Linked DNA regions of Homo sapiens: region 1 is linked to region 2. Evidence: fine-mapped expression QTL. A gene starts in region 2. The other region holds a variant in brackets. All regions are shown on one strand. Distances are from middle to middle.

Region 1 (2,910 bases), 29 kb after region 2:
CAGCTCTATGACCACAAATGTTTATAGAAGCTTTATTCATAATCACCAAAAACTAGAAACTACCTAAATACGCTTCAGCTGATGAGTGAATAAACTGTGCAGTACACCCATACAGGGGAAGACTACTCAGCAATTGAAAGGAATGAACGCCTTACATGCAACACCATGAATGAATCTCCAGCATGTTAGGCTAAGTGAAAGAAGCCAGACTCAAAAGACTACATACTGCAGGATTTCTGGGTTTTTTTTGTTTTTACTTTTATTTTTTAATATATATATATATTTTTTCCGAGACGGAGTCTTGCTCTGTTACCCAGGCTGGAGTGCAGTAGTGTGATCTGGGTTCACTGCAACCTCTTCCTCCCAGGTTCGAGTGATCCTCCTGGCTCAGCCTCCCGAGTAGCTGGGACTACAGTTGCGTGCCATGATGCCCAGCTAATTTTTGTATTTTTAGTAGAGATGGGGTTTCACCATGTTGGCCAGGCTGGTCTCGAAATCCCGACCTCAGGTGATCCACCCACCTCGGCCTCCCAAAGTGCTGGGATTACAGGCGTGAGCCACCGCACCCGGCCACGATTTCTTTTATATGACATTTGGGAAAATGCAAATCTATGGGGGATAGAAGTTGGTGGGTTTCCAGTCACCCAAACTCTTGTAGAGAGCATGGAGGGCCAGGGAAAATAAAATGATAGTGAAGCTGTGGTCAGAGTTTTCTGATGCTTGAGTTACAAGGAACCAACTTTACACACTAAGTCTCCATTTGCTTAAGGCAACACATTGTCTTATATGTATTTTTATGATAATGATGTTACAATGAAAGGACTGGAAAGGTGTGGACGGAATCAGAGGTTGGCTACTAGCATGTGAATAAAAAGGCCTAAGCTATGTTGGGAGGACTGTATGTATTTGAGTTTGGCAGCAGGGGAGCACTACTGAAAAGGAGTGATGAAATGAGAGGCTGGAAAAGACAATTAGGACCTCAGGGTACACAGCGGACAATACCAGAGCTGGCATTGGCAAAGTCCGGGCTGTATCCTGTACCCTGGGGTCTCCAAAGGGAAGGAGGAGGTGGATCCCAGGGAGTCCACAATATAATCTGCTGGGATATTGGAAGAAAATACTAGAATTTTGGTTTTTTTTAACTGTATACTTTAAAATTTTCTATTTTGGGGATAGTTTATAATGTAAATAATATACTGCTAGAATACACATATATAAGTTATAAATAGGTATACCGGTGAGGCGCGGTGGCTCACACCTGTAATCTCAATACTTTGGGAGGCCAAGGCGGGTGGATCACCTGAGGTCAGGAGTTCGAGACCAGCCTGGTCAACATGGCGAAACTGTCTCTACTAAAAACACAAAAATCAGCCGGGAGTGGTGGTGGGCGCCTGTAATCCCAGCTGCTCAGGAGGCTGAGGCAGGAGGATCGCTTGAATCTGGGAGGAAGAGGTTGCAGTGAGCCAAGATCGCACCACTGCACTGCAGCCTGGGCAACAGAGTGAGACTTGGTCTCTAAATAAATAAATAAATAATTAGGTATACCTACATC[G/A]GGGGGTTTCTTCAAAGAATATTTTTTCCCGAGAGTGTGTGTAATACAAAAAGTATGGAGATCATTACAACAGAACATGAAGATCCATGAGAGGTTTTAAACCATGGATGTGATGTGACTGACCAGAGCTCTCACTTAGAAAGATTAACCTGGCAGGATGCATGGGACAACCTCCAGAGTGGAGCAGGGGGTGGCCACGGGCAGGGAGACTGGCAGGAGGCTGCTGCAGGGGGACAGGTGACATTGGCGGTGCAGGAGTGATACCAACTACAGCAAATATCAGTATGATTTTACAACCAGAATGTGAAAGCGAAAGCACGGACCAATCAGAACACAGCCCAAGCAGAAGCAACTGGAACAGCTGTGCATTGCAGTAACACAGGCGGTACAGGTTAGGGTGAGCGGTGCTGAGACCTGAATTAGGATGGGGGCAGTTGGGGAAGAGGAGGTGCTGGAAAAAGGAACATTTTAGAAGCAGAATCAACAAGACCTGGTGACTGACTGACTGGACATCTTCGGATTAGGGAGAAAAAGGCAGCAGAAGTTTTGTTGTCAGAACACTGAGTGGATGGTGATGTCGCTGAAATGGAGAACGTGAAAGGACAGACAGGTTTGAGGAAGATGGGTGGCGGCAATTGTGATACATTGAGGCAGAGTGACTAAAGGACAGCAGCAGCATCAACTAACATTTTTACAGCCCCTCAGAGATTCAGCCAGATAGTGTGATCTTATTAAATGGATTTTACTAAGGCTCGAAGATGTGAAGTAAGTTGCCCAAGGTCACACAGCCAGTAACCTGCAGAGCTGAGATCTGAAACCACATACCCCTGACTCTTAAAAAGCTTGTTCCCTCCTGGGGAGTCCTCAGCCCGGGCCTGACATAGAGCCAGGCACAGGCCTTTTTCTGACTGGAGTCGACAGCTGGCAGGGTTGCAGGGAGCCCGGGCAGCCACAATCCCTGGGTGTGGGCCTGGCTTCTTCAGGGAGCTTACTGTGGCTCTAGAGGACTCGTTCAGGCAACCCCAAGCACTCACTTTTTCTTGAAGACCAGGAACTTGTTGTTTTGCATGATGCATTCTCGGTTGTTTGAGATCTGCTGAAAGATGGTCTTACTGGTTTTGCCCTGGAAGATGATGTTTTCCTGCACCAGGGCCTTGGCACGGCCCCGCACGGCGATGCCGTAGGCCCGGAACGAGTGGATCCGGTTCTTTATTACCTGGGAGAGGCAGCCAGAGATTGTCACACCTCAGGGATTCACAGACTGAGTGGGAGAGCTGGGCAAGTGAATTATCAGTTCTAAAACCAAGAGGCAGGAACATGCCAGGCAGGTCAGTGAAGAGCCTATGAGCTCAAAGAAG
Region 2 (2,910 bases):
GAGTGTGGTGGCACACACTTGTATTCCCAGGTTGTGGTGAGAGGATCACTTGAGCCTGGAAGGTCAAGGCTGCAGTGAGCCCTGGTTGCAACACTGCACTCCAGCCTGGGTGACAGAGTGAGACCCTGTCTCAAAAAACAAACTAACAACAAACGTTGGGACAATGGGTGAACTTAAATGGGATGTGAGGATTACATGGTGGTAATGTACCAGTGCTAATTTCCTGATTCTTTTCTGTTTAATTTTTTTTTTTTTTTTTGTCGCCCAGGCTAGAGTGCAGTGGCACCATCACAGCTCACTGCAGCCTCTGCCTCCTAGGCTCAAGCAATCCTCCCACCTCAGCCTCCCGAGTAGCTGGGACGACACGCGTGCGCCACCACACATGGCTAATATTATTTTTTGTAGAGACAGGGTCTTGTTATGTTGCCCAGCCTGGTCTCAAACTCCTGGAATCAAGGGATAGAACTGCCTCTCCCTCCCAAAGTGCTGGGATTGCAGGCGTGAACCACTGCGCCCGGCAATTTGCTGATTCTGATGGCTGTGTTGTTATTTAGGGAATGTCTGTAGGAAATACTATAGTCTTCAGGGTTGAAAGGGTATCAGGTTGACAACTTACTCTAAATGGTTCAGGGCAAAAACATTTCTTGCAGTGTTTCTTTACGTTTGAGATTGGGTAATTAGAAAAGCGTGACAAGTGCTCAGGCAAAGGGGCATGCAGGCTTTAGGGTTATTCCTAGGATCCTGGGTGTTGGAGGCGGGTGTTGAGGGTGTGTGGAAGGAAAAGAGTCTTGAAAGAAGGTGATTTGGAAGACAGAGGGGAGTCAACCGGAGTTCTTGCCCTTCAATAGTACGCATCTTTGGGCAAAGGGGGCCTCGGCCAGCGTCCATGCTTAAAGGCCCTGCTTTCGCCTTCTTTCTGCTCTGAAAACTCCCCGTGCAGAAGAAGGGTTGAATCCGCAGTGAAAAAGGGACATGTCCATCAGCTCGGACTCCCTCTTCTATTCCAGTCCAGAATCTCCTGCCCAAAGGCTCCGGGGTTGGCTGGGCTTCTGTTCCATCACCTCAGTGTTGATTGGGCCACAGGTGTGCACGCCACAGCCCATGGCGGGGAGCTGTTTGTCGGACTGTGGACAAAGTTTGTACCTAGAGCTGGATGTCCACGTGGGTGGGTGGGAAGCCCTAGAGAGGGGCGGCTATTCGCCAGCGGCCACATTTAGTTGGGGCTCAAGCAGTTCCTGTCAGAGAATTCTAAATTTGAACTTGGTCCTTCAGGTCTTGGGAAGATGAGTTTGTCACGGTAGGAGAGAGAGACGACACTCTCTTTAGAAGGTGCTGAGCCGGAAGAAGGCTCATAGCAAGCTTAGGCTGAAGCCTTTGGCGCCTCGGGCTCTGGACCTACAAAACCCAGAGTGCACGCGAGCGCTGAGCCAATCAGGTGCTGCGCCTCGGCCAGTCAAGCGGGTGTGTGGCACCTTGTGGGCGGAGACCACGCCTCTCTACGCGGGGGGCGGGGACACGCGGCTCGCGCGCTGTGGGCGGTGCCCGGCGGGGCCACGCCTTTTCCGGCCCGCAGCGCGGCCTGGGCTCCCGCGTGTTTAAAAGTGCGCTTGTGGCTGCTGCTGTCTTAACTCCTGTGCTTGGCGGACAGACAGGCGAGATGGCGGCGGAGGTGTTGCCGAGTGCGAGGTGGCAGTATTGTGGGGCGCCCGACGGGAGCCAGAGAGCTGTACTGGGTAAAGACTGCGGAGCTGGAGCAGTGCTCCTCTAACCCTCTCCCCTTCCGTCTCGGTACCTCAGCTGTCCTCTCGCCCTCCGTTGGGCTTCTCCCCAGCGGGGCCGGGACCCCTCTAGTCTCCACCACTCCCCTGGGCTCTGTCAGGGCTCCCCTGTCCGTCTTTCTGTCACTACCTCCCAGCCAGATTGGGACATCCCACTCACCCGCTCCCCAGAGCTGTGTCCAGGACCCTGCTGACCCCCTCACCCACCAGGTCTCCCGCCTCCCCCATTTCCCTCTCTTCACTGGGCAGGGGTTCCTTCTGTCACTTTAGGTATGTACCAGGCCTCTGCTGTCAGCCTCCTTCCGCGAGACATTCCCTCCTGTCACAGCCCCTCCCCAGGGTTCTCCCACCTCCCTACCTCCTCTTCTCAGCTGGCCCCGGATCTCCTCCAGTTCCCTTTGGGTCAGGACCCGAGCTTCCTTGCCATCCCCATTCTGACACTCCCTCCCAGTGACAGTCTAGTCCCACCGTACATTGTGTGGTACATTGTGTGGCCTTCTGCTCTCATCTCATTCTTGGGCTGCACTCTTACAGTCCAGTTCTCCAACGGGAAGCTACAGAGTCCAGGCAACATGCGCTTTACCTTGTATGAGAACAAAGATTCCACCAACCCCAGGAAGAGGAATCAACGGATCCTGGTAAGTGAAGCAGTTGCCAGCTGTCTCCACTCTGCAGGGCTCAGAAGGCCCCTGGGAGTGGGTGGATGTGGGAGGGAGTGAGGGGAGAAAAAGGGGAGTAGTAGCAAATGGAGCTTTGAAGAACTCTGATGCCCAGCAGCCTGGGATGTGGGGACAGGCTCCATCTTTCATTCATTTGTTCTTTCAACAAGCATTTATGGAACCTGCCCCTCTGCATCCCTGTGCTGCAAGCTTCTAGGAAAACAGCCAAATCAGGCCTAGCCCCACTCAGAGTTCATACTCTAGAGCAGGGTTTCTCAACCTCAGGACTATTGACTTTTTGGGCCAATAATTCTTTGCTGTGGGGGCAGCATCCCTAGTCTCTACTCATTAGATGCCAGTAGCACCAGAGTGGATTTCCCTGGATTGAGAACCTCTGCTCTAGAGAGATGAGAACTGGCTGTGAGGGACACTTTTACACAAAGCTCTGAGGCCACGTGGGGAAGAGTACAGGG

What was found. PIP is the estimated chance that this variant, and not a neighbour inherited with it, causes the effect. A credible set is the group of variants that fine-mapping cannot tell apart.
Region 1: its variant is the best candidate, but not a certain one, in a credible set for the expression of POLR1E in monocytes (TOPMed, PIP 0.84).

What each region holds. Positions count from the first base shown.
Region 1 is chr9:37,513,318-37,516,227 of GRCh38, forward strand. It overlaps FBXO10 (F-box protein 10), which reads right to left. Exons shown (of 11, transcript NM_012166.3): 10 at 2,587-2,768. Among named protein-coding and RNA genes, the nearest start is that of POLR1E, 29 kb to the left of the region's middle. RefSeq lists an enhancer at 2,081-2,582. The variant G/A (reference allele first, on the strand shown) is at 1,553.
Region 2 is chr9:37,484,391-37,487,300 of GRCh38, forward strand. POLR1E (RNA polymerase I subunit E) reads left to right here and starts at 1,558. Exons shown (of 12, transcript NM_022490.4): 1 at 1,558-1,733; 2 at 2,313-2,416. The coding sequence starts at 1,658. RefSeq lists an enhancer at 1,023-1,614 and a silencer at 1,356-1,685.